Linked DNA regions of Homo sapiens. The protein of the gene in region 5 purifies or fractionates together with the protein of the main gene of each other region. This does not show direct contact. Each region holds a gene or a part of one and is shown on either strand. Other genes may lie near its edges.

Region 1 (6,504 bases), on a different chromosome or scaffold from region 5:
AAGGTAAATAGCTCAAAGTGCCATTCTTTGTATTTGAATCTTATTCCTAAAGAACTTTTCAGTATGTAGTCCACTGATAATAACAAACCAATAGATGCACATGTAACTAATCACAGGAACCAACAATGCCTGAAGAGGCAGGCTCATATGCAGCAAACACATTTTCAAAGTTTCCGTTCATTTTGTTTAATTTTAACAAGTCAACAAGTGTGTGCAGTACTGGCTGGATGCAGTACGTATACAACAGGAATCATCCATCTAGCTATTTGGAATCCATGAACTGTTCCCTAATGAAGTATAACAATGATCAGGGTGGTATACCATCAGGTGAGAAACAAACTGCAGAGAAATTCTAAAGATAATGCGTCAGAAATATGCAATGCTGCGGAAGAAACCAAACCACAAATTTATTCCATTTAAGAGTTTTGGATTGGAAGTCTCTTCCTCCCCTAAGAATAGCAATTTGGTTTATTTGGTCACCTCTTATAAATAAGCATATGTTACCTTTAGGATGTGCAGGTACCACTGAAGACTTAACAAAAACTACCCATAGACACTGGGGACTCTTCCCAAGTTAACACCTGCTGTGAGGCTTTGCCTAAACAGTTAAGAGCCTTCCTCTCTGACATATCTGTTTAGACAATTTGATTATTTTAGGCATTTTCAAAATTCACTGTCAATTATACACATCATTTTTCTTATTCTCCACAAAACCCTCTTTGGAGATAATAATTTGAACTATCACTTTAGGAATGAGTCCACCTAGTCTTATGTAACAGTGATAAATTAATATTCTTTCAATCGACAAACACTTTTGAGCCAGGCACTCAGTAGCTGTGGAGAGTACCTGAGGCACAGTAAGGCAGGCATTGCTAGTGATAAACACACAAGGTATAAGACAATTTCATAAGGATGAGGAAAACTTGAGAAATGAGAAAGTGGTAAGTGCCACCTTCTCATTTGGATAGTGGTAAGTGCCGTGAAATAAAAACCACGAGAATGCAAAAGAGGAGACCAGGGAGGGGAAGAGCTTCCCAGCCAGGGGGACTTTAAGCCACGGCAACCTTGGGGAAAAAGTGGTTCAAGCAAGTGAGACAGTAAAGTGTGAAGGTCCTGACAGGAAAGGGAAAGACAGGACCAAGAGGCCTGCTGTGGTTAAAGCAGAGGGGAGGCATGGCCACACAGGAGAGTATGAGCCAGACCAAGGAGGTCTTTTAGGCCCTGGGAAGGAGTTTGGAATAGGCACTCACTGGGAGATTTTAAGCAGATTAGACTTGGACAATTATTTTAAAGATCACTGGCTGATGCATGGAGCACTGACCACAACTAGAGAGATTAGTTAAGAGGTCACAGTAATTAACAACTCTGGTCACAGGGTCACACTAGTCACAAATACTGAGTGCTAACCACATGCCCTGTAGGGTTCAAAGTGCACTGTCTTATTTAATCCTCAGAATAACCCTGTGAAATGGGTACTGTTACTATTTAACAGATGAGGAAAGGGAACTGGCGGTTTAATAATTAAATTAGCCTTAGTTGCCTAGTAAGTAAGTGGTAGAGGGAATCGAACCTATGCATTCTGACCAGAGGCCTCTTGCCTTTAAACCACTACTCTTCAATTCCTATTTAAAGCCATGAGACTGCGGTGTCACCCAGAAGGTTCTAGATAAAGAGGCTAAGACCAATTCCTGATGTTACTCCAAAATTTGAGTTAGGCAGAGGATGAGGAGGCTGAAATGGAATGTGAGGTGGAGTGGGCAACGAGGGCAAAGGGCAAACAGAAGAACCATGGATTTGGATTCTCATGGACGCCAAGAGAAGAAAACATTAAGGGGAACAGGATAGGTTAACAGCTGCTGTGAGATACTGTGCTTTGAAGGGTAGAGAGAACAGAACTAATAGTTGGAGAGAAATGGGGATCAGGGGGAGTTTTTTTTTTCTTATATTTTGAAACAAGGGTGATTCCAAGTCATGCTTAGTTAACAGGAATAATCCTTGAAATCAGGATGTGTACTAACAAGAACTTGGAACATAAACTCACCTAAGAGAAAAAGCACTATTCTATCTACTGCCTCTCTTAAGAGGCTTTCTAGTATACACACAATTCCTAAGGAAGAAACAAATTGAAGAAAATTAAAAGGAGCTAATGAGGAGCATACTTACTTATATTCATTTTCCACCATATTTTCAGGGTCTGCCTGTTCAATGGCTTCTTCAAAGAATTCCTCCAAAGTGGGCATGTGTTCCCTGAGCGGTACAAAAATAACCAGTGAGGATGGCATATATTCTTAATAATAAATACTCATGAAGTGGTGGCAGGACAAGATTGTGGGCATGTGTTCCCTGAGCAGTACAAAAATAACCAGTGAGGATGGCATATACTCTTAATAATAAATACTCATAAAGTGGTGGCAGGACAAGATTGTGGGCATGTGTTCCCTGAGCGGTACAAAATAACCAGTGAGGATGGCATATACTCTTAATAATAAATACTCATAAAGTGGTGGCAGGACAAGATTGTGGGCATGTGTTCCCTGAGCGGTACAAAATAACCAGTGAGGATGGCATATACTCTTAATAATAAATACTCATAAAGTGGTGGCAGGACAAGATTGTGGGCATGTGTTCCCTGAGCGGTACAAAATAACCAGTGAGGATGGCATATACTCTTAATAATAAATACTCATAAAGTGGTGGCAGGACAAGATTGTGGGCATGTGTTCCCTGAGCGGTACAAAATAACCAGTGAGGATGGCATATACTCTTAATAATAAATACTCATAAAGTGGTGGCAGGACAAGATTCTAATGGCCCCATACTTTTAGTTACAGTTTTGATTACGTGGGAACTCCAGACTTTTAAGGAAGTAAAACCGTCAAAACTAAATTCAAAAAGGACAATAAATAAAGGGGATAGTCTAATACTAAATATTACATAGTATTTACTACATATAATATTATATACTTTAATTACACACTATAATATATAAATATGTTGCTATTCAAAGAGGGCAGCCAGGGTATTTTATAGCATTTGAATTTTACCAGCAAATAAACTTTTACATTAAGTCCCTATCCACGAATTATTTTTTCTTTAAACCAGAATTAAACCAAAACTAATAATCAGACCATAATACGATTTCAAGGGTTTAACCTTTAGCTCTTATTTAAATTGTTACCATGGTAGCATGGTTGATTTTTAAAATGCATCTTTCTTGAATTTGTTTTTAGAAATAAAATTTTGATACAGGGTCAAGCAAAGAAATGAGGTCTCAGGATCAGAAGACATCTTCTAGAGTAAAACTAGGAAAATGGGCTCTTTTAAGAAAACTATCCCAATATCCATTCATTTTCTAATGCTACAGATACTATATTCCATTTTATGAACATGCCCCAAGTTATCCATGTCCTACACAGAGATATTTGTCTTCCCACTCTTTGCTCTGACAATGTTAAATGAACATTCTTGCACCTGTCTCCTTGTAGATGAACTGATTTCTTTAGGCACTGGGCCTTCAAACTTCCACTGCAACCCACAATAAGAAATTCATTTTACACTGCAACCCAGTACACACATATATGCAAGTATATGTACAGATATATATAAGTAAAGCTAATGCTTCACAAAAGTATATTTCCTATTTCATTTAAAAAATGCTAGTTGAAATTACTAAATTGACTTTACAAACCACCAATGATTCTCAAACTTAGTTTTTAAAAACACTATTCTGATCAACACACCTACTAGTGGGGCACAGACATCTTTAACATTCAGATAGAGTGACTGTGCCATCAGACTCCTACCAGCAGCACTGGCAAATTATTTTTATCCATAATTCTTATAAAATCTGGGTATTTTTAAATTACTGAATCTCTTAGCTGGAAACTGCTTGCTGTAGTTTTTAACTGTACTTCCAGTTACTAGTGAAGTTCCCCGTCTTCTCAGAGGTTTATTAAGGTTTCTACTTCTGAATCTGACTATTCATTTGTACATTTTTCTACTGGGTTGATTCACTCTCACAGATTTGGCAGGAATCAATCATGTTAGAATTTTATCTATTTTTCCTGGTTTTTGTTTTTATTGATCTTCTCTTTTGATTTTGTTATCTTCTCTATTGTTTGTTGTCTATTTTACTGATTTCTAATCTTATTTTACTTTCTACTTCTATGAGTTTACTTTTCTTCTGAATGACTCTCAGTGTCAGACTCTTATTAGCTTGGTTTTTAGATTTCATTCTTTTTGAAAGTGTAAACACTTAAGGCTATACATTTCTCTTCTGTGTTCTACTGAGTTAGATCTCAAAAGTCTGAACATGTAGTGTTTTCATTATTATTTAGCTCTACATTTTCCAATTTCCATTATGACTTCTTTGATTCAAGGGTTATTTAGAAGTGTGTTTAAAGGAGTTGTAAGTATTTTTGCTTTTGCTATTCACACATAATTTACAAAAACTTGTGGTTTCTGTAAGACCAAGCCTGTTAATTATTTTGTTAAATTCTAAATGTATTACACTAAGTTTTTTCCACCAAATTTATTAAATTCTGAGAAAGGTCTGTCAAAATCCTACTAGATGGTAGGTTTTCTGGGTGGTGGTGGATGGTGAAAACTGACCCTGGGTCAACTTCTCATTCTAATTTTGTCAAATTTTTGAGAACACATTCTTAGAAAATAAAGTTTAAAATGTGTATATTTCTATTTTTTCCTTTTATCTTTATGCAATGATTGCCTTTATTTTTAATAATGCTTTCTGCTTTTAAGCCTTTTCTGCCTGATATCAATATAACTATGCCTTTTAAAAATTACGTCTTTTAAAAGTTCTTTCAGTTTCAACCTTTCCATATCTTTATTTTTAAGGTATATTTCTTATAAACATATAGATGGATCTTTTTTTTTTTTTTTTTTTTGAGACGGAGTCTCGCTCTGTCGCCCAGGCTGGAGTGCAGTGGTGCGATCTCGACTCACTGCAAGCTCCGCCTCCCAGGTTCACGCCATTCTCCTGCCTCAGCCTCCCAAGTAGCTGAGACTACAGGCGCCTGCCACCACACTTGGCTAATTTTTTGTATTTTTAGTAGAGACGGGGTTTCACCGTGTTAGCCACGATGGTCTCTATCTCCTGACCTCATGATCCGCCCGCCTTGGCCTCCCAAAGTGCTGGGATTACAGGTATGAGCCACCGCGCCTGGCCGATAGATCTTTAAAATATAACACCAATTTCTGTCTTTGAGCCAGAAAGTCCATTTCCATTTATATTTGAATTTAACCATACTGTTTTGTACTTTCTGTTGTGTTTTCTGTGCTTTTTTCCTCCTCTCCTACCTTCTAATTTACTTGCTTAAATTTTCTGTATTTACTTTTACCCCTCAATTTATTTAAAAATTACATATTCCATTTCTTTCACATACTTTACAAGCATGTTTGACTTAAACCATAACATTCTTTAATTCTGACCACCCCTTCTTGTCTTACATGTCACTTTTATCAAGTTTACCTTTTAAAATAACCCTAAATAATAATTATTACTATTTTATAACAGTGAATTCTTGATAAGATTTATTCAGATTTCTTCATGTTTACCAAAGTGTCTACACAGTAATCCTTTCTGCAATTTACTCCTTTCTGGGTTCAGTTTCCTTAAGACAGCTTTTTTACTGGGGACTGTTGATAATTTCTCATAGTTTTAGTCAATCACTCAACCACAACTGTTTAACTTGTTACAGAATTTTTTAGTTGAAATGTTGAAAAAGCAAGTAATACTTCTAGAAATGAGAAAATATAGTCATTGAATTTACAAAACGAGCAGGTTTAACAGCAGTCTGGACATAGGGAAAGTAAGAATTACTGGATTAATGATTAAGAAATCACCCAGAAAGCAATACAGAAGGAGCAAGAGTTGGAAACGATGAGTTAATGATAGTTGAGGAGGTCCAGCAAACATCTAATGGCAGAAAGAAATAATAGAGAATGTGAAAGACATTTTCAAGCACTCATCCCACTGTCTTCTGATTTTTGTTGTTCTTGAAGTCAACTGTTAGTTTAACTTTGCTCCTTTGTAGGTTGTCTGTTTTTTCTCTCTGGTGACTTTATTATCATGTACAGAGATATGGATTTATTTGGTTTATCCTCCTTAAGTATTATACTTCTTGAACCTATGAATTCATGCCTATTCTTAATAATTAACTCAATTATTGCCTCTTTCCCATTCTCTATTATTTCTTTCTGCCATCAGATGTTTGCTGGACCTCCTCAACTATCATTAAGTCATCGTTTCTAACTCTGCTCCTTCTGTATTGCTTTCTGGGTGATTTCTTAATCATTAATTAACCCATTAATTCTTACTTTACCTATGTCTAGACTGCTATTAAACTTGCCCATTTTGCAAGTTCAACGAACTTTTGTGACTATTAAAACCCAAGTTCCCTGGTTCTCAAAGCTGGCAATCATTAGTACTGCTGCCCTAGAACCGTATCAGTTCATAGGCTTACTCTTCTGTTTGTAGTTTTGATT
Region 2 (6,504 bases), on a different chromosome or scaffold from region 5:
TGAGCCTGCGCCTGGGCCTGAGCCTGCGCCTGGGCCTGAGCCTGAACCTGTGCCTGGGCTGCAAGCATAGGTGTCAGTTCTGATTGCTGAATAACCTTAACTCCATCTGGCTTGGTCCATGCAGATTCACGTGTCCGAGCATTATAATAATAAACCTGCAGCGGAAGCAAAAATCAATGGTATCATAAAATCTGTCAGTTATTATTAAAAACAAGAATGGAACCATATTTTATCTTTAAAGCTATTTAAAAATAACGTAGGGCCAGGCGTGGTGGCTCATTCCTGTAATCCCAGCACTTTGGGAGGCAGAGGCAGGTGGATCACTTAAAGTCAGGAGTTCAAGACCAACCAGCCTGGCCAAAATGGTGAAACCCCATCTCTACTAAAAATATAAAAAAATTAGCCAGGTGTGGTGGCCGGCATCTGTAATCCCAGCTACTCGGGAGGCTGAGGCAAAACAATCACTTGAACCCAGGAAGTGGAGGCTGCAGTGCGCCGAGATCATACCACTGCACTCCAGCCTGGGTGACAGAGGGAGACTCCATCTCAAAAATAAAAAATAGCTGGGCGCGGTGGCTCACACCTGTAATCCCAGCACTTTGGGAGGCTGAAGTGAGCAGATCACCTGAGGTCAGGAGTTTGAGACCAACCTGGCCAACATGGTAAAACCCTGTCTCTACTAAAAATACAAAAATTTAGCTAGACGTGATGGCAGGCGCCTGTAATCCCAGCTACTTGGGAGGCTGAGGAAGGAGAATCACTTGAACCCGGGAGGCGGAGGTTGCAGTGAACCAAAGATCGCACCACTGCACTCCAGGCTGGGTGACAGCACGAGACTCCATCTCAAAAATAAAAAAATAAAAAATAAAATAAAATAAAATAACTTAGGGCCAGGCACAGTGGCTCACGCCTGTAATCCCAGCACTATGGGAGGCCAAGGCGGGTGGGATTACCTGAGGTCAAGAGTTCGAGACCAGCCTGGCCAACATGGTGAAACCCTGTCTCTATTAAAAATACAAAAATTAGCCGAGCATGATGGCAGGTGCCTGTAACTCCAGCTACTCAGGAGGCTGAGGCAGGAGAATTGCTTGAATCCAGGAGGCAGAGGTTGCAGTGAACCAACATTGCACTACTGCTCTCTAGCCTGGGCGACAGGGTGAAACTTCCATCTCAAAAAACAAAAACAAAACAACAAAAATAGGTAATTCCACCCCACAGCCCAATTTTCTATAATGAGCACAAAGGAAAACCCATGTTATGTTTTATGCAGAAATTCAACATAACAGACCTGAGACAGCTATCTGTAGAAAGCCCTGCTGACCCTTATCTGGAGTCCAAGAACTTGGATTTCAGGAGGGTTGACATTCCCTTACTGATAAGAATGGCTCGATGTGCCTAAACCAGCTACGCTGAACACCTGCTTTCCTTCTAGGAGCCTGGAATTTGGTATGTGCTAGGCAGATGGTACCAATGTGACCAGAAGCTTCCAGAATCACAGGTAAATGTGTGTTAGCACTCCAGGCAACCTTATATCTGCTGCACAAAAACTAAATCCAGTCAGCTTCTCCTGAAGTCTTACCCCATTCCCTGCTCACCCAGGGCTCATTCTTAAATGACAGTATCACTGACCTCAATCTGCCAGAACTCTTTAAGTTTTACTCCTCTGTCAACAAATGACAACTTAAATATATTTTATTATTTACCTTCCCATCTGGAGTTTTATTTTCAACCCATATCTCCTCCGTAGGAGGTAGTGCTGGAGTACCAGGAGCAGTCACAGGAGGCATTCCTGGTGGAAACATCATACCCGGAGGAGGAGGCATGGAACTCATGGGAGGAGGCATGAAAGGTGGTCTCTGTTAATTCACAAAAACAGTAATGGTCACTTTAATTACTTTTCCTCCAAATTATTACTGAATTCTATTCAAAAGTAAAACACTGTAAGAGAAACTAGTTTTATAGTCTATTCAAACACATTCACCTGTCATAGAAGCAAAATGTCTGCAACAAAAATTACCAAACAAACTAGAAAGAAACACATCAAACTACTAATAGTGGTCAACTCTGGGTTATAACACTGTCAGTGAATTCTGCTTTCTCCTTTCTACATGATCTGATTTTCACACACAGGGCGCTGGATTACTTTTTTTAAAAAATTGATTTTTATATCCTGTTTTAATACCAGGCACATCACTGTCTCCACAGCTTCTTGAAGAATCCTTCAAGAAAAAGTTTTCACTGTGCATAAAAATGAGTTTCAAAATTAAAAATTTGACATTATGACATTATAAAAACATTTTGAGCAGGGATTTAAAAGATTTCCTCTATAAGCTGTAAGTAACATTAAAATTCAATTATCAAAAGCAGCTTAATCTGGATAATGGAACTCAAACTATGCTAATAGTGTGAAGTTGTACTTTATTTTCCTAAAAATGTCTTTCCCATACTCCAATCTTTGCTGGATTCAGTTGAGTATCTTTCAAGCGTCAGCACACCAGATCTAGGTTATATAAAATATCTATCCCAAATACGTTTCATGAGCCCTTGGCTGAAAATCACTTGGACTTAATATAAAGCCAAACAATTATCCAAGACCAAGAAAGGCATGACAACATTAGAAAGTATCTTAGCACAACATTTGATATATTTCAATGAGAGGGTTACATTAGTCCATTACATTTTATAATACTCCAAAGTAGGTTTAACTCTTAAAGTCACAAATTAGAACAAATTCACGTTAAAGATTATACCAGAATAAGTTAAAAAAACTATTTCTTATTCTAACCTTGAAGCAAATATAAAACCATTTAACAGTGTGTTTAAAGGAAGGAGAGGCTATTCGTTATTAGGAAGGCCATAAAATTATTAAGCAAAGTATTAAAACCTGTCTCTTCCATAACCACAACCCTACCTAAACAGAATTAACATCACTTAAATGGCACATCATTGTCTTCTTCCATTTTTAGTATAATTCATTCTTCACTGTCTAAGCTAATGGAAGGCAGATGATACCACTATATTTATTTGGTTTCAGAATTATACAGACTAAACTAAGAAAACATAGATACATACTCAAAAAGAATACAATCCCAAAATGAGACATTTGAGAGTTCATACCTTCATGACCTCACCTCAGACAGTAAGTCTGGATACACTGGAGAAGGATCTATGCCCCAGGTTAAAATACCATAAATGTTTTTATTTAAAGAAATCCCATAATAAATCGTTTTCAAAAAGAGTAAGATAACCCTATTTTCCCCCCAGGGGAGAAAAAAAATTCAACTATGTGCTTATAAAATGTGTTTGCTGTCACTTTCCAGATTCTATCCTAGGCACCATTTCCAGGAGGAAGACTTACTCAGGAACATATACACATATATTTTTAGACTTGCTGGCAACATATATCATTGAAAATAAATTTTCTCCACTCAAAAATATCTTAAAATTTCAAACTTCATTTCCCATAAAGAAGATGCATTACTAAAGCCAATTCACAGAGCTAAAGGTAGGTAAAAACTATTGAATCCTGGTTTTATACACATACTTCTCTATCACCATCTAAAGTCCTATTCTGAATTTCCATAGTAATTACTGCTACCACTAATTCAGAAGAAACATATTAATATATGGATCTTCTCTTTAGCTCCCATTTTCCTATAAACTGAAACTATTTAAGAATGTAAGTTTTTAACTCAAAACCCATATATAATATTGATAATGATGCCAACAAAGAAATGGCAACCTCTACATTCTTTACCTGGAGGTGTGGAGGGCCCATAGGTGGAGGTATCCCTCCTGGAGGAGGCATTGGCGGCATATTAGGATCAAAAGGAGGACGTCCAAAGGGCGGCCGTGGTGGTGGAGGAGGGCCTCGCATCATACCAAAAGGTGGAGGAGGTCGCATCAGAGGTGGTGGGCCTCGCATCACTGCATTTGGTGGGGGAGCCGGACCTCGGAACCTCAAGGCCTGCTGTTGGGCCATCCTGCATGGGAAAGCAAGGAATAAATTTTTCTTTCTTAAAATTACAAAAATGTAGCTACTGATCTCTAATTACATCCATCAAATTTAAAAGGTTCTTAAGTCTAAGTGGAGTTGGAAAGTCATCATTTTGCAACCGTCATGATAAAAACTACATCAATGGGCCGGGTGCAGTGGCTCACATCTGTAATCCCAGCACTTTGGGAGGTCAAGGCAGGTGGATCACCTGAGGTCAGGAGTTTGAGACCAACCTCGACAACATGGTGAAACCCCATCTCTACTAAAAATACAAAAATCAGCCAGGTATGGAGGCGCACGCCTGTAAGTCCTGCTATTGGGGAGGCTGAGGCAGGAGAATCACTTGAACCCGCAAGGCAGAGGTTGCAATGAGCCAAGATCAAGCCACTGCACTCCTGCCTGGGCAACAGAGCAAGGCTCCATCTCAAAAAACAAACAAACAAACAAACAACCAAAAAAACAAAAAAAAAAACTTACATCAATGGATGATCTAGTTTTGGATGAATGATCAATGGATGCCGAGTCTAGGCAAAAATTTAGACAAGAGGGTTATCTGATGGTCTTAAAGTATTTACCCACATGCTGCTTAAAGTTGCAAGAAAGGATGAAAAAAAAAACACTCTACATAATCTACGTAATAAGGAAATTAGGCAATACCTTGACCCCGTGATCAAAACTAATTATCATCTAAGAAGGACAGATAGATAATGTGTGACTGAGAGAGACACGACATCACCTATTCCGACCAAAAATGTATAACCTCAATCTAACAACGAGGAAAGTATCAGACAAACTCAGAATAAGGAAGGAATGTTCTTTCTTTTCTTTTCTTTTTTTTTTTTGAGACCAAGTCTCACTCTCTTGCCAGGCTGGAGTACAGTGGCATGATCTCGGCTCACTGCAACCTCCGCCTCCCGGGTTCAGGCGATTCTTCTCCCAAGTAGCTGGGACTACAGGCATGCGCCACCATGCCCGGCTAATTTTTTTTTTTTTTTTTTTTTTTTGTATTTGAGTAGAGATGGGGTTTCACCATGTTGGCAATGGTCTTGATCTCCTGACCGCATGATCTGCCCTCCTCGGCCTCCCAAAGTGCTAGGATTATAGGCATGAGCCACAGCGCCTGGCCGGAAGGAATGTTCTATTAAAAGGGGGATGTGTATTCTTCAGATATGTCAATGTTATCCATAAAAGACAAAGAAATGTTGTGGAAATGCTCCAGATTAAAAAAGGTTAAAGAGTCATAACAACACAATTTTTTTTTTTTTTTTTAGAGACAGGGTTTTGCCATGTTGGCAAGGCTGGTCTTGAACTCCTGACCTCAGGCGATCTGCACACCTCAGCCTCCCAAAGTACTGGGATTACATGCGTGAGCCACCACGCTCGGCCAATAACAACACAATTTTAACTCTAGATTGGATTCTGTACTAACAGGAGGAAATGCCATACAGGGCATTGCCAGATCAACTGACAACACTGGAATATGCACAACAGATTAAAGTATTATATCATTACAAATTTATGAAGTTGATAATTAGGCTGTAGTTAAGTAAAATAATATCTCTATTCTTAGAAAATACTGAAGTATTGAAGGGTAAAAAGCCATAGGTATACCTTACCCTCACAGTTCAGAATAACAAAGAGGATGCACGTGTGCACGCAAATAGTAAAGCAGAAGAGGTAAAATATTAACATTGAATAACACCCTAGCTTTATTTTTGCGACATTTTGTAAATTTGAAATTACTTCCAAAGTTTTTAAAGGGGGCAGGGGGGTCACTTGGCAGATCATTAGTAGTCTCTACCTAAAGGGAAAGCCTTTCCCTGTAGGGCACACTGCCCCACCACCCCTCACTCTCAACACCCTAATGTATTTTCTCCACAGCATTTAAGCAAATAAGTAATATCACATGAGATAGTATTATCTATCTCTTCCCCCAAGTGCTTTTGTAAAGAGAATTATTAACTCCTAAAAGTGCTTACTATGAGCCAGGCAGTGCTTGCTCTAAGCTCTTTTCAAAAATTAAGTCTTTTAATCATCAAAACAACCCAATGAGATGGATACTATTAATCTCAGTTTATAGATAAAGAACTAAAGCAAAGAAGTCACTTGTCCAAGGCCACACAACTGGTTCAGTACTAAAGCCAGGATTCAGGTGGCCCACGGTGGCTCGCGCCTGTAATCCCAGCACTTTGGTGGCCAAGGCAGGCAGATCATTTGAAGTCAGGAGTTCAACATCAACCTGGACAACATGGTGAAACCCCATCTCTACTAAAAATACAAAAAAATTAGCCGGGCATGGTGGTGCACGCCTGTAATCTCAGCTACTTGGGAGGCGGAAGCAGAAGAATTGCTTGAGCCTGGGAAGTGGAGGTTGCAGTGAGCCGAGATTGTGCCACTGCACTCCAGCCTGGGCAATAGAGCAAAACTCTGTCTCAATAATAAATAAATAAAGAAAATAAAGAGAGGATTCAAACACAGGCAAATGCTCCTTCAGAGTAGGAATTGTG
Region 3 (4,925 bases), on a different chromosome or scaffold from region 5:
AGACTTTTCTATCATTGGGGCAAGTTAAAAAAAATACAATGAGATAGAAGACACTTTAAAAGCTGTTGTTGGGTTTCTTGTTTAATTTTAAATTTAGCAATACCATCTCAAACCTGGAGCAATCCTGGAACAGTTACCAGGATCACCTTTTCCCTTCAATCCTTGTGGCTTCTGGGAATCTTCAGAGCCTGGGTCTGAAAGGTGTTTCCTACATGTCTCAGGGCTGGATGCAAACCTGGCTGGGGACCTGAGCATCAACTCCCATTTAGAATCAGACATCTCCCTTCCCTGCAAATGTCTACAACTACCAAATTGCTCCCCAACAGTTAGCTCAATGGATTGAATTTGCAGAAGCCAACTCCTAAAATGGGGACTGCCTGGCCATACAACTAAGAAAAAGAAGTCAATTTATAGATGCTTATAAGGTGACACCTTAGTAAAAAATATAAGCTACATACAATATAAACCTAGAGTGAGTTTTGTGCCCTAGAAGACCCTTTATCCCAAGATAACCTCAACTTACCCACATGACAACTCACCTAGAGCCAAAAGAAGCTTCCCAGCTCTCACTGCTTCCAAGGACCAAAACAGCTTCCCAAGAAAACATCCGAAAATTCCTTCTGATGAAGGGGTAATGTCTCCAAGCTCCAGCTCTCCACTAAGGGCAGGGGGTCCTTACACTTTGGACCCCAACCCAGCCCTGAGACACCTAGTTACCAAAATCTTTCTAAAAATTAAGGACAACTGATTTCACGCTTTAGCACATCCCCTCTAACTGTCCCATCGACTTTTCTTGCGTTTAGGCGGCTCTGGGACAGCAAAGCCGTCAGCTGTCTTATCTGTCTTGCTGTCCACCTTGTCCATCTTGCTGCTGTCCACTTTGGGTTCCATCTTGGGCTCCATCTTGCTCTCACGATTAAAAGCTTCTTTCCTGCTTTCCCCATTCCGACCATCATTTGCACCCCGGTTCTCCCCATGCCGGCCTGCGCTTCCTCCATGTCTGTTCTCCCCGTGCCGATGGCCATCAGTATGACGGCTGCTGCTTTCTGGATGGCGGTATCCATCTCCATGGCGACCACCATCTCCGTGACGTGGACTATCGCTATGCCGATTGCCAGTCTCTCCGTGACTGTGACGGCTGCTGCCCCGGTTCTCAGTATATCTCTCTCTTTTCCCGTTGCTGCCCCCAGTCCCTTCTCGGCTGTTATTCCCTGAAGCTGTGTTGTTGACTCCTTGGGCTCCGGCAGACGGGTAGGTCACAGGGGCACCACTGATGTTGCCAGTATTGCCAAAGCCTGGGATGCCCTTGGCGGCACTGGTGACGGGGCTGTCAGGACTGTTATGGCCCTGTTGTGCTGAGTTAGTTGGAACAGAATTCAAGCTCCCTGCACTAGTCCACCCACTTGCCCCAGCAGCAGAACTTCCAGCCTTCTGATTACTTAAACTGGCTGCAACAAAGTGACTCTTGTACTGTGACTGAAAGAGAAAGAGACATCAGGAGTAGGTAAGATAGCAAGTTCAAGAAACTTGAATATACAACTTGGCAAATGATGAGGTTTACAGAAACTCTGTGCTATCCTGGCACTGTGAGTTTAGTGTCCTGATGGCCCCACAGTATGGTCCCTTTTGTTCTTGTGCTATAAAGGAAAACTTGTGGATCTCTGTGGAGAGATGGACCCCCAGTGTTCTGAAATGTACTTTTATAGCCTGATTGGCTAGAATAAAGCATCTATGTATTTAGCACATTTATCTGCATTCAAAACCAAAAAGTTCTGAAAACTTAAAAAAAATTTTCATACTGCAATTTAAGTTTGACAGCAAAACCTGCCTTGAACTCATTCTATCGATTCACCTTAGTGTGACTATCAGTAAATTTTGCTTCAGAAGTGAGTTGGAGGTGGGTGCCTGGGAGGTGGGCAACACTTCAGGCTGTTGGGAAGGGAGGGAACACACACCCTGCTGCAGGACAACAATCCCAGGCCCCAAGTGTGACTCAAAGTAGACCAGCACAAGGGGTTCTCTAGATCAACTTGCATTTCCAACTAAGCTACTGTTAGGTTTATATTCAAAATCCAAGCAGCGTGAAGACCCTAAATCTAGCATCAAGCCTAGGCGCCCAGCTACAACCAGGAAAACTAAGCCCCTCTGTCACTGCCCAAGAGTTACTGCTGAAAGTGCTTTTAATGAAATGCTTATTTCAGACCTGGAAAGCTGCTTTCATTGCCGTTAGTCGATCTCCCATAGCTCCTGTGGAAGGCTTGTAGGCCTCATAATTGCTCATTACATTGTTATTTCCTCGATCCTAAAAAAATAAACACATCTATGAGAATGAAAAAATAAGCAGGAAAGCTCACTGCTATAGACTAGGCCTCATTATGAAAACCCTTGAAGTGGGAGCTACAAAGGAACTGGATACTTTTAGAAAGCTGCTACTGCTTTGTGAGAAAAGACACAGTGACAATCATTTAAAAATGCTTATGCCCTCAACCCAGAAATTCTATTTCTGGAAATTAACCCTATTAAACAGAAATGCAATCAGATTATGCCCAAAGTTGATCATGTATTTACATAAACACTTCCAATTAATTAAGTAAAAATTACGTTAAAGATGAAAAGGCCCTGAATAGCATATTGTGTGACTGCTCAGGCCCTGAATCAAGACCATGAAGGGTCTGAATTTCGGCTTGAACACTTGTCACTGTAACCTTAGGTGCCTCAGCATTGTTATCTGTACTAACTTCCATTCAGTTATTTTGAAGATTAACTGAGCCAAAACATCTGATTGCTTGGAATGGTCCTGGCACATATAAAGTGCTCAATAAATATTACCTATTATTATGCATCATCATCATTATTATTATAATGTGGGAACAGAGTATGTAATTACAAAGATGCCAAGTTTAATGCTCCAGAAAAGTATACTGGCAGCTTTCTTCCCTGGCTTGGAATCAAGGTGACAGAAAACAGGCAGTTAAGAAAGGCCACCAAAAGGGTACATTTGTTACCTGGTTTGTGAGAAAAACTAGCTCCCGACTTGGAAATTCCTGATCCGTTCCTGAGTTTAATGACAAGATATGGCTAGACTTTACAGTGACCCTTTGGCAACATTTACCTAGCAGCAGGCTTTAGGCCAGTGTTGAAGGGCTTATAAAACCAGACTGCTGGGCCCCAACTCCAGAGTTTCTGATTCACAAGGTCTGGGGTTGGGGATGAGTTTGCATGTGCTGCTGGTCCAGGGACCACAGTGTGAGATCACTGCTAATCTAGAATAATTTCCTGAGCAAGCCTAGTCAACCAAGTACACAAAGATGCTTCTTCAATAGAAAGTTACCATAAGAATGAGCACTGCATTGACTCAAATCAGATTAAATACAAATTCCCTTCTAGACAGGGCTTTAAACTCACTGAGGCTTTCCTGGGTAGATGAGAATATTCCTAATGACTTTCAGGACATGAGACCAACTATAAAGGCACTACTGTAGTAGTCTAGACTCACCATGTTCTCAGAGCCCAGGCCAGGCCGCTCCCTGTAGCCTAGGCCTCCTCCACCAATGTTCAGCTTTTTTCCTTTCCCTCCTTTGAATCGAGATTTCCGAAACCAGGCATTCTGCATTGAACAAAATTCAAGGTTAAGTCAAGGGAGGGAGAAAAGAACAGAAGAAGAGAACGAGGACAAAGAGGAAATTAAGTGGGAAGGGGGAACTTTTGCTTAATTTTCAGCCAGCACTACGCTAAGGGAGGAATTTTCACAGGAACCACAGATTGGTTTCTCTTTGGTAGCATAATCCACCAAATTTGAAAAGTGGCTGAGATCCTTATCTAAGGCTTCCTACAGTGCTCCCTCCCTCAAGGCTCTCCTGGAAGGGAAGTTGTTCAGGTAAGCTTCAAACCCAGAGGAGTAACTTTGGCTACTTCTAACTTCCTTGAGGAAAATGAGCTTATATTTTATTTCTCAAACCATGTATTATTGGACGTAAACATTTGGAACTTAAACAACTGGTATGTTCAGAAGCAAAGGAAAAATGCTATGTGAAGTGAGGCTTATCAGAACTGACTATAGGGACAGACTCCCAGAAAGGATGGTAGCCACACAACTGAAAATTTTATTTACCCGCAGAGCGTAAAAGTTTTCATTGAACTTGACCATTGCCACTCAACATATTTACTCACATTCTCTTAAGAATGCAGGGCGGTGGCTCACGCCTATGAATCCCAGCACTCTGGAGGCCGAGGTGGGCGGATCACTTGAGGCCAGGAGTCAAGACCAGCCTGACCAACATGGTGAAACCCCGTCCCTACTAAAAATACAAAAATTAGCCAGGCATGGTGGCACATGCCTCTAATCCCAGCTGCTTGGGAGGCTGAGGCAGGAGAACTGTTTGAACCGGAGACGCAGAGGTTGCAGTGAGCTGAGACTGCGCCACTGCACTCCAGCCTGGGTGATAGAGTGTGACTCCATCTCAGAAAAAAGAAAAAAAAAAAAAAAAAAAAAAAGCAAATGTCTCTGGGAAGGTTAAAGTTTTATCTGACAATCACATATTACCAGCAAAATAAAGTGCTTGAGAGGTAGGGCAGCAGGCTTGGACAAAGTCCTGAGCACAGAAAGCCTGAGGTACAAAAAGAAATGGAAGAAAATGCCAAAGTCAAAATGTGTCCTGTTTTAAAAGTTTATTTAGGACTAGCTCTCTGTGCTCAGGAGCAGGGGAGGAAACATTATTCTCTTCTCTCCTGCAGTGCAGGTCCTTTACTCCTAGGACCAGAAACTTGGGCACTGCCACATTGCAGCTGGGTTGTACCAGTTGTGTGAGCTGGCCTAGGCATTTGACAAACTCTTAACAGTTTCTGCTCTCAGAAAGTGTTCCGAACCCATTTGTAATTTGGGGACAGCATGGATTCAGATGACTCCAGGTTTGATTTGTTAGAAT
Region 4 (5,958 bases), on a different chromosome or scaffold from region 5:
CCTTTACTGCTAAACATAACCAGAGGTTGGGGTCCAAGTTCCTCAGCATTGGAGGTCTGTCACCCAAGTGGGTGGATAGTTCACAGGAAAGAAAAGAAGGGGCACCTGCTGGGCTATAAATGATTATACTGTACTCCTCAGATTGTGATTGCTACCCCTGGGCGTTTGATTGATGTGCTGGAGAACCGCTACCTGGTGCTGAGCCGCTGTACCTATGTGGTTCTGGATGAGGCAGATAGGATGATTGACATGGGCTTTGAGCCAGATGTCCAGAAGATCCTGGAGCACATGCCTGTCAGCAACCAGAAGCCAGACACGGATGAGGCTGAGGACCCTGAGAAGATGCTGGCCAACTTTGAGTCGGGAAAACATAAGTACCGCCAAGTAAGGCTGCTTCCCTGGGCTGGGAAAAGTTGGACAGGCCAAGGCGGGTGGATCACTTGAGCTCAGGAGTTTGAGACCAGCCTGGGCAACATGGCGAAACTCCGTCTCTACAAAAATTTAAAAAATTAGCTGGGCATTGGTGGTGCACACCTGTGGTGCCAGCCACTCAGGAGGCTGAGGTGGGAGGACCTCTTAAGCCTGGGAGGCAGTGGTCGCAGTGAGCTGAGGTCGTGCCACTACTCCATTCCATCCTGGGCAACAGAGTGAGGCCCTGTCTCAAAAAAAAAGAAAAGTTGTACAAGGTTGCCAACCTCCTTTTGGGCCTTTCTTGCCTTAGGTGGGCTCAGAGTACATGTTTCTAGAATGAAGTGTGCCTAGGTACAGTCCTCTGACAGTCCTAAGGGTGGAGCCATTTAGCTTAGCCCTGGAAAAACGATTCCAAAGACTCATGCTGCTACCGGGACCACAGGTGCTAGCAAATGCTCTCAATCCTTCCTGTCATCATAAGATGGAAAGTGCCTTGATGAGCAGGTACTCAGGAAGGATGGGAATTCAGAGGACACTATTTTCTAAGGTGGTGGCTATCAAAGCCTATACTGTGGCCCATTTTAGATTCTTTAGTCTGGGCTGACCTGCCTTCGGTGACAGTGGGATATATGATTATTCCTGCCTGGGTGCAGGGCTGAGCCTCCTGTTTTCGTAGACAGTCATGTTCACGGCCACCATGCCCCCAGCGGTGGAGCGTCTGGCCAGGAGCTATCTTCGGCGACCTGCTGTGGTGTACATTGGCTCCGCAGGCAAGCCCCATGAGCGTGTGGAACAGAAGGTCTTCCTCATGTCAGAGTCAGAAAAGAGGTATGAGGGCAGCTGAGCCAGGGGAAACAGGGTGGAGAATAAAATGGCTCTGAGAACTTTTTTAGTGCAGGTGCAGGGCAGGGCAATTGCTCTGCTGTGTTGAAGAGCTGCTGTTTTCTTGGGCAGAATGTCATGGGCATTAAAGACCCTGAAAGTAGTGTTCATAGATGAGGGTTGGGCATTTCACTTGGAGTGGGAGGTATTATGCATCTTGTTTTTCTCCTCTTCCTTCCAGGAAAAAGCTGCTGGCAATCTTGGAGCAAGGCTTTGACCCACCCATCATTATTTTTGTCAACCAGAAGAAGGGCTGCGACGTGTTGGCCAAATCCCTGGAGAAGATGGGGGTGTGTCTGGCAGGGGAGAACAAAGTCTAGCCTCTGTGGCACTGCTTTCTGAATCTAGCAGGGCCCCCTAGGCTCTTCCTTTCAAGTCTCACCCTTTCTTTAGCCTGTCCAGCAATCAACAAGTTAGGACCAGGGTGAAGGGTGGTTTGAGGGAATAAAGAGAATGGAATCAATTGCTGGGACCCCCTGTCTGCTGCAGTAATGCCAGCCAAAGCTGCCTTGGGTCTTCATCCTGGTGAGGTGGAGCCAGGGAAAGGTTTGAGACCCATATCCTGGCAGTCTGAGGATGTAGAAAAGAGTAGGTGAAAACTGCTTAGGTACGTTGAGAGGAGGTGATATGGTCAGAAGGGAGCTGATAATCAGTGTCCTTTACTCCTGTCACTGGTGCTTGAGGGGAGGGGTGTGTCCCTGTCACTCAGCTCTCCAACTTCCTTAAACTTCTTGATCCCTGCTTTCTACCCTGATCTCGCCCCTAATTCTCTTTGAGGACTTTTCATCTGTCTGGCTCCACCGCTCTCCCAGCTGTTTTGCCTTTGACCTTACTCTGTGTGTCCCTGCCACACCACACCTTTTTCTCTCATCCCTCTCTTCAGCTCACTTGTTCTCTCCTTCTTTCACTGCAATCATTCTCTTGTTTCCTTTCCTTTCTCGTACTCTGCTGCTCTCTCCAACCCTCCCTTCATCTGTGTCCCATTCCTCTGAACTCCTGTGTCTCTCCTTGATTGCATTGCTCACTCTTCACTTCACCATTCTTCCAACAGTACAATGCTTGCACACTGCACGGTGGAAAAGGCCAGGAGCAGCGAGAGTTTGCGTTGTCCAACCTCAAGGCTGGGGCCAAGGATATTTTGGTGGCTACAGATGTGGCTGGTCGTGGTATTGACATCCAAGATGTGTCTATGGTTGTCAACTATGATATGGCCAAAAATATTGAAGGTAAGTTCCAGGGAAAGCAGCTTCAATCCAGGGTGAAGTCAGATTCCTTATGGTGTCCCACTGGAAGTCAGGGTGCTGTCCATGGAAGGCTGTTACTGCCTCCCTCAGTTCCAAGTCTGGGATTGCTTGCTCCCATGAGAAGCACTCCTGTCCTTTATCTTACCTGGGTTTGTTGTCCCAGCAGCTGGGATGACACTTGTGTCCTCAGGAGTGTGAAGAATGAAGCTAGGCAGCTGTGGGTCTTAGTGTGGTAGGGACCACAGTCAGTAGGAGGACAGGGGAGATGGGCACCTGGAGAGGGCACTGTGGGCGCCTCAGGTTCAGGCAGCATGTGCTGTATTCCTGCCTTTGGAGATGGGGTGGGAAGGATGCCTCTAGAAGTGGAGGCATCAGACACGGCTCCCCAGGGCATCTGGGCTATGCTGAGTGACGTTCTTCCCATTCCCCAGATTACATCCACCGCATTGGCCGCACGGGACGAGCAGGCAAGAGTGGGGTGGCCATCACCTTCCTCACAAAAGAGGACTCTGCTGTGTTCTACGAGCTGAAGCAAGCTATCCTGGAAAGCCCAGTGTCTTCCTGTCCCCCCGAACTAGCCAACCACCCAGATGCCCAGCATAAGCCAGGCACCATCCTCACCAAGAAGCGCCGGGAAGAGACCATCTTTGCCTGACACAGCACTCTTCCTGTGGGCTGAGGGCATCTCCAAAGCTGCCTGATGCCTGTTTTTCAGAACCCTCACATCCCTCTTTCCAGGTCCTCACTCTTGGGATATGGGGGCTTAGGAAAACAATCCAACTCCCTAGCCCAGACCCTCAGGTCAGGAGGCCTGCGTGTGGGGCTGCAAAAGGAGAGGACGACGCTGTCGGAGGCAGGGAGAGCAAATTACCACAGCTTCTTGGCCCAGTTCTGCCCTTCTTTGCTTTGGGATTGCACTGGGCCATCAGCTCATGCCAGGCTATGGGGGCAGCCAGTTGGCATTGCTCCCCAGACTGAACAGAAACCTGGCCGCCGGATGGGACCTCCTTTGGCACAGACTTGACTGTGTAACTGCATAAACTGCAGTAGCATCATTGCCCTAGATGCCCCAGGAGACCTGGCACCATGAGGATTACAGACAGTGGAATCTTACTGTCATCTGGACAGCTGTTTTCCTGTTTGGATGGTAAAGGAAGTTGAGAGTCTTTAGACCTGTGCACAGCCCCGCACCAAGGGGTGCTGTATGCTCTAGGCATCCCCTCCCCCAGGGGATTTTCTAAGTAGATGGGGGGACACGGTGAACTGGCTGTGTCCATCTTTGTCACTGAGTGAAATCTCTGTTTTCTATTCTCTGAGAAGATAAGTTTGTATGTTCTGAGAATAAATACATGAATATTAAGACTGTTAGATCTAGTTCTAGTTAAACTTCCCAGCTTCTCCCTGGCAGGAGGGACACCACTGGGTGCGGGGTGGGTTGGCTTGGAAAATGAGAGACAGCCACATTAAGAGAAGAGTAGAGGGGTCTCTGCTGATAGTCTTGAGTCTGTAGGTGGACTTGAGAGGAGATGCAGAAGCCACGCAGGACTGTAATGCATCTTCCGCCCCTGCTCTAGCCTCGCGTAATGTGTGGCCCTGGCCTGGACACCCTCTAGGGAGCTTTAGGCAAAGGTGAGAAAGGAAAGCAGTTGTGAAATTTTGGCAGGTGAGGCAGTTGGAACCACTCTGCCGCTGTGTGCCCAACGCCTGGTCTCGGGAGCTTTGCTTGTGGCTCCCTAGTTGGACCCATTGCTCCTGGGAGGGGATGGTGCAGAACGGGTGGACCCAGCTGTATCAGGCTGTGGTGAGAGGAACGCAGGGCTGCAGTCCTCCCCCCATACCCCTCTTGTTCACATGCTCTTCTTACCCCACAGAAAGAGTTGGCCTAGTACATAGAGTTCAAGTTGTAGCTGCTTCTAGGGCCTTTTTGGCCTGGCGCAAGGATACTGTAAAGCCGTGACCAAGCGTCTTCCCCACATCCCAGGACAAGCCCTTCCGTGCTGCTGGATGTCTCCCTCTTGACACCTGGGCATGAGGAGTGGGGATGCCTGGGAGTGGAGTGCCTCCCCAGCTCTGCCTTTGTCCCCTTCCCGCTGGACAGATCCTCTGAGAGAAGGGCGGCCCAAACACATCTTTCCCTCCACCAGACTTTGGGCCGCATCACAGACAGAACAGAAGCCGGAGGGACTGTGCATGATGTTTATTAGTGATGACAGTGAGGTGAGGCAGGGGCTTGTGGAGCATGCTCTGTAGGTCACACACTAGAGCCATAAGGCAAGAGTAGCCGGGGAGACAGGTCCTCTGTGCCCTGTCTCTCCCCATCTAACCCTAACCTAACAAGCGGCAGCTATGAGTCAGGGAACAAAGTCTGGAGCCCGGTTCTCCAAAGATGTATGAGGGACAAGAACAGAAATGACAGGATGCAGGGCAAAAGAATGAGAAAGGCAAGGAGGCCCCCCTAAGTTCTCTGCTACACATGCCCTCCTTCCCCAAACCCCCATCCAGGTTGGCTCCCATCTGCCACTTGGCTTCACCATGCTCCTGGTCCCTGGTCCTGTCACATGTTAAGAAGCTTCCTGGCAGGGTGAGGAGAGCCCTTCCCTCCAAGAGCTTCAGCTGTGAGCTCTCTCTGGCCCGAGCGTGGCCAGCCTGCTGCTCCAGTCTTGGATGTGGCTGCCACACCCCAGCAAACAGATGGGTGTGCCACCCTGGGGGGGCTTTGATTGTCTCATTTCTAATGTATGGCAGTGAGGTGACTGGAGGCCCTGGATGCCAAAGCAGTCCCTTGACTGTCAGGACTTGTGCCTGCTCAGGGACCTTGTTTCTTCCTCATGCCATGGTGCCCACACCCCACCCTTTTGTCACTTTAATGGGGCATCCCTTCCCTGAGTCTGGTGGGAAGGACCCTGCTAAGGGGATCCTGGCCTGAGGGCACTGCCCAGTGGGGCAGCTTCCTGTGTGGGAGGAGAGGAAGGTGCCAGGGGTGCAGAACACACAGCTAGTACCTGGAATGGGAGCCTAGTAGGGGTCACTGCCCAGGAGGTGAGGGGGTCCCCTGTTTCTCCCAGAACCTTGGGACCACAGGCAGCCCTGAAGCTGGGGCTGGGCAGGGGGTTTTGGGGGCTGAGCCTAGTGCCAGCCTGATGCCAGTCTAACGCCACCCTGCCTGGAGTGGGCCCCCCAGCCAGCTGCGCCTGTGCCTGCCAGGGTAGGGCAGCAGGAGGCTGTCAGTAGCTATCCTTGGGCCAAGGCCGGTTGCGCTGCCAGTTCCGGTCACTGTGGTTGTGCTCTGAGTCCTGGGCTAGAAGCCGGTCTTGGGGGTCATGCCCGTTAGCACTAGGCAGCCCCGAGGTGTGTTGGCGGTGAGGCTGGTACAGGTCCTGGTAGGCATCTGCATAGTCCTCCTCCAGGTGGCGGGAGCTAC
Region 5 (6,504 bases):
GTTGGTATTAATATCTTAATGCTTTTGTTTTACTGCTGAATAACAGATGACCCTTCAGGTCTTTTCATGTTTTCCTTTTTCATGTCTCCCTGCCTAGGATCCTAGGTGCCTAATTGCCTACTTAAACTAGTTTAGGGAATCTTGGACTGAAGCCAAAACATGTAAAATGCCCTGAAGGTTAGGCAAAGGGAAGAAGTTGGGTAGTATGAAAGATTAGGTCACATCTTGTTTATCTCTTGAGTTCTATAAATTGAGAATGTAAATTTAATACTATGTCTATTTTTAAAATGTATTTTATTGCCATGAAAAAGTAGCATGAGACATTGGAATATGGAATATCAGCTTCTTCATTTGGGTCATGGGGATCATGCTTGAAGACCTAATGCTCTCTCTAGGTCTATCTCAGCATTGAGCCCCTGGATGCTGTTGCGTGGCTTAGATGACTTATACATGCTTTGTGGCATGATTCATACTACCTTCTACCTTCTGTGATACCCTTGGGTAGTTATAATAGGACCCAGGTTAGAGTGCTTCTTGGTGGAGCCACTGTAGAACTGGGATTTAGATGCAGCCAGGGCTGATGCTCAGCTGGTGAACACTGGTGTGCTTGTTCCTACTGGTGATTTACAACCAGTGTTTCTTCTTTTTGGGCCTGCATCCATTTTGATTGGGTGGTGTCCATGCTGTATCTGTAATAAAATATTTTTGAATGTTACCGCTGGATGCAGCGTGAGAAAGATACCTCCTGAAACTTACTGTAAGAAATTTACAGTGCATTGATTTTTCTGATATATAGGAATCGTCATGTTGACCTTGGAATTCTTAAGTTCCCTGGCTGTAGGAAATGGAAATTTTTGTAGTATGTCACCATTGTTAGCTTATTTGGTATTGCGGATTTTCCCTGTTGCAGGACTGGGTGAAAGCTTTTTCTGCAGCAGTCATGTTGAAAACCTTGTGTTGACTTTCCTCGTGTTCTGAAATGGGAGCATAAAAGTTTACTCCGCCACTTCGTCTTAAAATAGCAAAACTTTGCTGTTTTCTGCAGATCTAGGACCTTGTTACAGAACTCTGCCAAAAAAAAAATGTTTACAGAAGAATGTGCTGTGATTAGAGAAGAATATGCTGGTGTGTAGATTTCAAACTCTCTGGACAATATGAATAACACTGTCTTTGTTTCTACAGTGGGAGCCAAGAAGAAAGGTTTGCTCCCGGGTGGAACAGGGATTATCCTCCTCCTCCCCTTAAGAGTCATGCTCAAGAGAGACACTCTGGCAACTTTCCTGGCAGAGATTCACTTCCCTTTGATTTCCAGGGGCATTCGGGGCCTCCTTTTGCAAATGTAGAGGAGCATTCTTTCAGCTATGGAGCTAGAGACGGACCGCATGGTGACTATCGAGGAGGGGAGGGACCTGGACATGATTTCAGGGGGGGAGATTTTTCGTCTTCTGATTTCCAGAGCAGAGATTCATCACAGTTGGACTTCAGGGGTAGGGACATACATTCTGGGGATTTTCGGGATAGAGAAGGACCACCTATGGACTATAGGGGTGGAGATGGTACTTCTATGGATTATAGAGGTAGGGAGGCACCTCATATGAACTACAGAGACAGGGATGCTCACGCTGTTGACTTCAGAGGTAGGGATGCTCCTCCATCTGACTTCAGGGGCCGGGGCACTTATGATTTAGATTTTAGAGGCCGGGATGGATCCCATGCAGATTTTAGGGGAAGGGATTTATCAGATTTGGATTTTAGGGCCAGAGAACAGTCCCGTTCTGATTTTAGGAATAGAGATGTATCTGATTTGGACTTTAGAGACAAAGACGGAACACAAGTAGACTTTAGAGGCCGAGGTTCAGGTACTACTGATCTAGACTTTAGGGACAGGGATACGCCACATTCAGATTTCAGAGGTAGACACCGATCTAGGACTGATCAGGATTTTAGGGGCAGAGAGATGGGATCTTGTATGGAATTTAAAGATAGGGAGATGCCCCCTGTGGATCCAAATATTTTGGATTACATTCAGCCCTCTACACAAGATAGAGAACATTCTGGTATGAATGTGAACAGGAGAGAAGAATCCACACATGACCATACGATAGAAAGGCCTGCTTTTGGCATTCAGAAGGGAGAATTTGAGCATTCAGAAACAAGAGAAGGAGAAACACAAGGTGTAGCCTTTGAACATGAGTCTCCAGCAGACTTTCAGAACAGCCAAAGTCCAGTTCAAGACCAAGATAAGTCACAGCTTTCTGGACGTGAAGAGCAGAGTTCAGATGCTGGTCTGTTTAAAGAAGAAGGCGGTCTGGACTTTCTTGGGCGGCAAGACACCGATTACAGAAGCATGGAGTACCGTGATGTGGATCATAGGCTGCCAGGAAGCCAGATGTTTGGCTATGGCCAGAGCAAGTCTTTTCCAGAGGGCAAAACTGCCCGAGATGCCCAACGGGACCTTCAGGTATGTTGATGGGGTGGATTGCTTTTTTTTTTTTTTTTTTTTTTTTTTTTGAGACGGAGTCTCGCTCTGTTGCCCAGCCTGGAGTGCAGTGGTGCGATCTCTGCTCATGCAAGCTCCGCCTCCTGGGTTCATGCCATTCTCCTGCCTCAGCCTCCTGAGTAGCTGGGACTGACTACAGGCGCCCACCACCACGCCTGGTGTGAGCCACCGCGCCCGGCCTGCTTTTTTTTTTTTTCTTTAAATAAGACTTTTGTGAAGGATGACATTTATTTATTTATTTATTTATTTATTTTTGAAACGGAGTCTTGCTCTGTCACCCAGGCTAGAGTGCAGTGACATAATCTCAGCTCACTGCAACCTCCGCCTCCCAGGGTCAAGCAATTTTCCTGCCTCAACCTCCTGAGTAGCAGGGATTGCAGGCATGTGCCACCATGCCCAGTTAATTTTTGTATTTTTAGTGCAGATGGGGTTTCACCATGTTGGCCAGGCTGGTCTCGAACTCCTGACCTCGTGATCCGCCCACCTCGGCCTCCCAAAGTGCTGGAATTACAGGCATGAGCCACCGTGCCTGGCCAGTTTTTTTTTTTTTTTTTCATTTTATTTTTATCTTTGCATAACCATTAGAAAGCAAAATTTGTATTCAGGAGTGGAATGTAGGAATGTAAATCTCTAGAGAAAAGGTCCTCAGCTCAGATCATATATATGTGTGTGTGTGTGTATATATATATATGAATATATATGTATATATATGAATATATATTTATATATATATATTTCTTTTTTCTTTTATTCTTTTCTTCCTGCTTCACTTTCCATTTGTGTATATATGTGTGTGTATATATGAAGGAACTATATATATATATATTTGAGACACGGTCTTGCTCTGTCACTCGGGCTGAAGTGCGGTGGTGTAATTATGGCTCCTTGCAGCCTTGACCTCCCAGGCTCAAGCGATCCTCCCACCTCAGCCTTCTGAGTAGCTGGAACTACAGATGTGCGCCAGCCACTATGCCTGGCTAGTTTTTTTTTTTTTCCTTTGAGAATGAGTCTTGCTCTGTCGCTCAGGCTGAAGTGCAGTTGTGCGATCTCAGCTCACTGCAACCTCTACCTCCTGGGTTCAAGGGGTTCCCCCGCCTCAGCCTTCCAGGAAGCTGGGACTACAGGTATATTTCACCATTCCTAGTTAGTTGTGTTTTTTTTTTTCTTTTTTGAGATGGAGCCTCACCGTGTTGCCTAGGCTGGAGTGCAGTGGCACGATCTTGGCTCACAGCAACCTCCGCCTCCCGTGTTCAAGCAGTCTTCCTGCCTCAGCCTCCTGAGTAGTTGGGACTGTAGTTGTGCACCACCAAATCTGACTAATTTTTGTATTTTTTGTAGAGATGAAGTTTAGGCATGTTACCTAGGCTGGGCTGGAACCCCTGATCTCAAATGATCCACCCTTCTCAGCTTCCCAAAGAGCTGGGATTTCAGGCATGCACCACCATGCCTGGCCAGCAATTTTTGTATTTTTTTGTAGACAGAAGGTTGCAACATATTTCCCAGGCTGGTTTCAAATTCCTGGGTTCAAGCAGTCCCCCCACCTTAGCTTCCCAAAGTGCTGGGATTACAGCAATGAGCCACTGCCCCTACCCTTTTGATGTGTGTTTATTCATTATTTTGTTTTATGATGCTGATTTACATGCCTTGGGATAATTTAGTTTGAAAGTATATGTCTTTGGGAGTTGACTCTTGCAACTCTCGCTTAGTTAGACCTGTGATTGTTTAGGGATCATTTTCTTATTTAAATTCATTGAGAGAATACTTAGGAGTCTCCCTAGTTGTGAAGAGCTGATATTAATGTTGCAACTATCCTCTTGCAGCTAACGTAATTAACTTAAATGTTAAACTTCTTGAATATATGATTTAAGCAAGGAGGGTTATATTTGTAATTTTACAATGAAGGTATTCTCTTTTAAAGTAGATTTGGCTGGGTACAGTGGCCTATGCTTGTAATTTCAGTGCTTTAGGAGGCTGAGGTGGGAGGATCACTTGAGGCCAGGAACTTGAGACCAGTGTGGTGCAACCTCAGGAGAGAATGTGAGGGTGGGGAAGAAAAATAAGGCCAGGCACAGTGGCTCATGCCTGTAATCCCAACACTTTGGGAGGCAAAGGTGGGCAGATCATTTGAGGTCAGGATTTCAAGACCAGCCTGGTCAACATGGTGAAACCCCATCTCTACTAAAAATAACAAAAATTAGGCCAGGCGTGGTGGTTCTTGCCTGTAATCCCAACACTTTGGGAAGCTGAGGCAGGTGGATCATTTGAGGTCGTGGGTTTGAGACCAGCCTGACCAACACGGAGAAACCCCATTTCTACTAAAAATACAAAATTAGCTGGGCGTAGTGATGCATGTGTGTAATCCCAGCTACTCGGGAGGCTGAGGCAGGAGAATCCCTTGAACCTGGGAGGCAGAGGTTGCGGGGAGGCAGAGGTTGCACTATTACACTCCAGCCTGGGCAGCAAGAGCGAAACTCCATCTGAAAAAAAAAAAAAAAACGAAAACCAAAACCAGCCAGGTGTGGAGGTGGGCGCCTGTAATCCCAACTACTTGGGAGGCTGAGGCAGGAGAATTGCTTGAACCTGGGGGGCGGAGGCTGCAGTGGGCTGAGATTGTGCCACTGCACTCCAGCCTGGGCGACAGAGCGACACTCTGTCTCAAAAAAAAAAAGACATTATCTAGTCATCTTCTCTCACCAGAGGTATGAAGTACTGCTAGTTTACAGCCCATTCTCCAGCTCTCAGACCAGGGAAATTTTTCTTTTTTTTTGAGACGGGGGTCTCGCTCTGTCACCCAGGCTGGAGTGCAGTGGCACAATCTTGGCTCACTGAAACCTCTGCCTCCCAGGTTCAAGTGATTCTTCCGCCTCAGCCTCCTGAGTAGCTGGGACCACAGGCGTGCACAGCACAGTTGGCTAATTTTTGTATTTTTAGTAGAGACGGTTTTACCATGTTGGCTAGGCTGAGAAAATTACTGTTTTGAGACTATGTTAGTGTGTCTTTCTGGTTATTAAAGTCTTACTCAGTCTTGTCTCTCGTAATGTTTTGCTTTACTTTGAAGACTCTTTCAGTGAGACTTGGTCTTAGCACATTTACATTCTTATGATTTGAAGTCACATTCTGGCACTCAGAACAATAGAGAAAATTGTAATTTTTTATATCTTCACGTGACATGTCATTATCATTTTTGATCCTGAGTGGCTAAATTTCATGTTGATTTGTGTTTTGTGCAGTAAAGTATATTTGTGAAATAATTTTTCATTCTCAATTTAAGGATCAAGATTATAGGACCGGCCCAAGTGAGGAGAAACCCAGCAGGCTTATTCGATTAAGTGGGGTACCTGAAGATGCCACAAAAGAAGAGGTAAGGCATGTCTTCTCTCCTGTTTCTCTGTGTCAATTAAAAATTAAAAAAACCTTTTAATTTGAAAAATTGTAGATTCACAAGAAGGTGCAAAGAAATGCACAGAGAAGTCTTGTGTATTTTTTTCCCATCTTCCCTCAGTGTTAATATTTTGCACAACTGTGGTATAGTATCTAAACCAGGAAATTGACCCTGGTATAATACATAAAGTTTATTCAGATTTCACCATTTATACATGCACTCACTGAGGTGAGGTTAAAAAAAATTATGACAAATGATTGCTCTCTTTAGACCTGATCACATCCTTTAGAGCATATTATTTCTGGAGTATGTACATAAGGATGCAGTTTATTTACAATAGTAAAAACTAGAAACTGCCTAACTGCCCTGTATCAAAGGATTGGCTGACTAAATTAAGTCTGAACTTATGGCAGTGCTCGCTCTGTGCCAGGCATTGTGTGATACTTACAAGCATTAGTTCATTTAATTATCACATATTTAATATAATCACTCTAAATATTAAGCATTACTGTATGTAATTGTTCTAGATACTGAGTGACACAGCAGTGTATATTATCAAGTCACTGCCTCCATGGATAATGAAAAAGCAAGCAAAAGGATTACACAATTTTAGTCAGCAAAT

What was found.
Region 1: the proteins of RBM6 (region 5) and THOC1 purify together in Homo sapiens (affinity purification with mass spectrometry; one large-scale study listed by BioGRID and IntAct). This does not show direct contact.
Region 2: the proteins of RBM6 (region 5) and TCERG1 purify together in Homo sapiens (affinity purification with mass spectrometry; one large-scale study listed by BioGRID and IntAct). This does not show direct contact.
Region 3: the proteins of RBM6 (region 5) and DDX42 purify together in Homo sapiens (affinity purification with mass spectrometry; one large-scale study listed by BioGRID and IntAct). This does not show direct contact.
Region 4: the proteins of RBM6 (region 5) and DDX23 purify together in Homo sapiens (affinity purification with mass spectrometry; one large-scale study listed by BioGRID and IntAct). This does not show direct contact.

The regions. Positions count from the first base shown.
Region 1 is NC_000018.10:216,723-223,226, forward strand, and holds part of THOC1 (THO complex subunit 1), read right to left. Parts: intron 2,248-6,504; coding exon 2,164-2,247; intron 1-2,163. UniProt on the Homo sapiens protein: Component of the THO subcomplex of the TREX complex which is thought to couple mRNA transcription, processing and nuclear export, and which specifically associates with spliced mRNA and not with unspliced pre-mRNA.
Region 2 is NC_000005.10:146,452,535-146,459,038, reverse strand, and holds part of TCERG1 (transcription elongation regulator 1), read right to left. Parts: intron 4,522-6,504; exon of another isoform or gene 4,477-4,521; coding exon of another isoform or gene 4,475-4,476; intron 3,984-4,474; coding exon 3,758-3,983; intron 1,857-3,757; coding exon 1,704-1,856; intron 156-1,703; coding exon 1-155. UniProt on the Homo sapiens protein: Transcription factor that binds RNA polymerase II and inhibits the elongation of transcripts from target promoters. Regulates transcription elongation in a TATA box-dependent manner.
Region 3 is NC_000017.11:63,814,245-63,819,169, reverse strand, and holds part of DDX42 (ATP-dependent RNA helicase DDX42), read right to left. Parts: intron 3,608-4,925; coding exon 3,497-3,607; intron 2,303-3,496; coding exon 2,204-2,302; intron 1,477-2,203; coding exon 772-1,476; 3' UTR 1-771. UniProt on the Homo sapiens protein: ATP-dependent RNA helicase that binds to partially double-stranded RNAs (dsRNAs) in order to unwind RNA secondary structures. Unwinding is promoted in the presence of single-strand binding proteins.
Region 4 is NC_000012.12:48,827,703-48,833,660, reverse strand, and holds the end of DDX23 (probable ATP-dependent RNA helicase DDX23), read left to right. Parts: intron 1-141; coding exon 142-384; intron 385-1,087; coding exon 1,088-1,239; intron 1,240-1,474; coding exon 1,475-1,583; intron 1,584-2,344; coding exon 2,345-2,519; intron 2,520-2,968; coding exon 2,969-3,192; 3' UTR 3,193-3,905; downstream 3,906-5,958. Other genes in the region: CACNB3 (voltage-dependent L-type calcium channel subunit beta-3), read right to left, coding at 5,762-5,958. UniProt on the Homo sapiens protein: Involved in pre-mRNA splicing and its phosphorylated form (by SRPK2) is required for spliceosomal B complex formation.
Region 5 is NC_000003.12:49,966,288-49,972,791, forward strand, and holds part of RBM6 (RNA-binding protein 6), read left to right. Parts: intron 1-910; exon of another isoform or gene 911-1,182; coding exon 1,183-2,461; intron 2,462-5,771; coding exon 5,772-5,861; intron 5,862-6,504. UniProt on the Homo sapiens protein: Specifically binds poly(G) RNA homopolymers in vitro.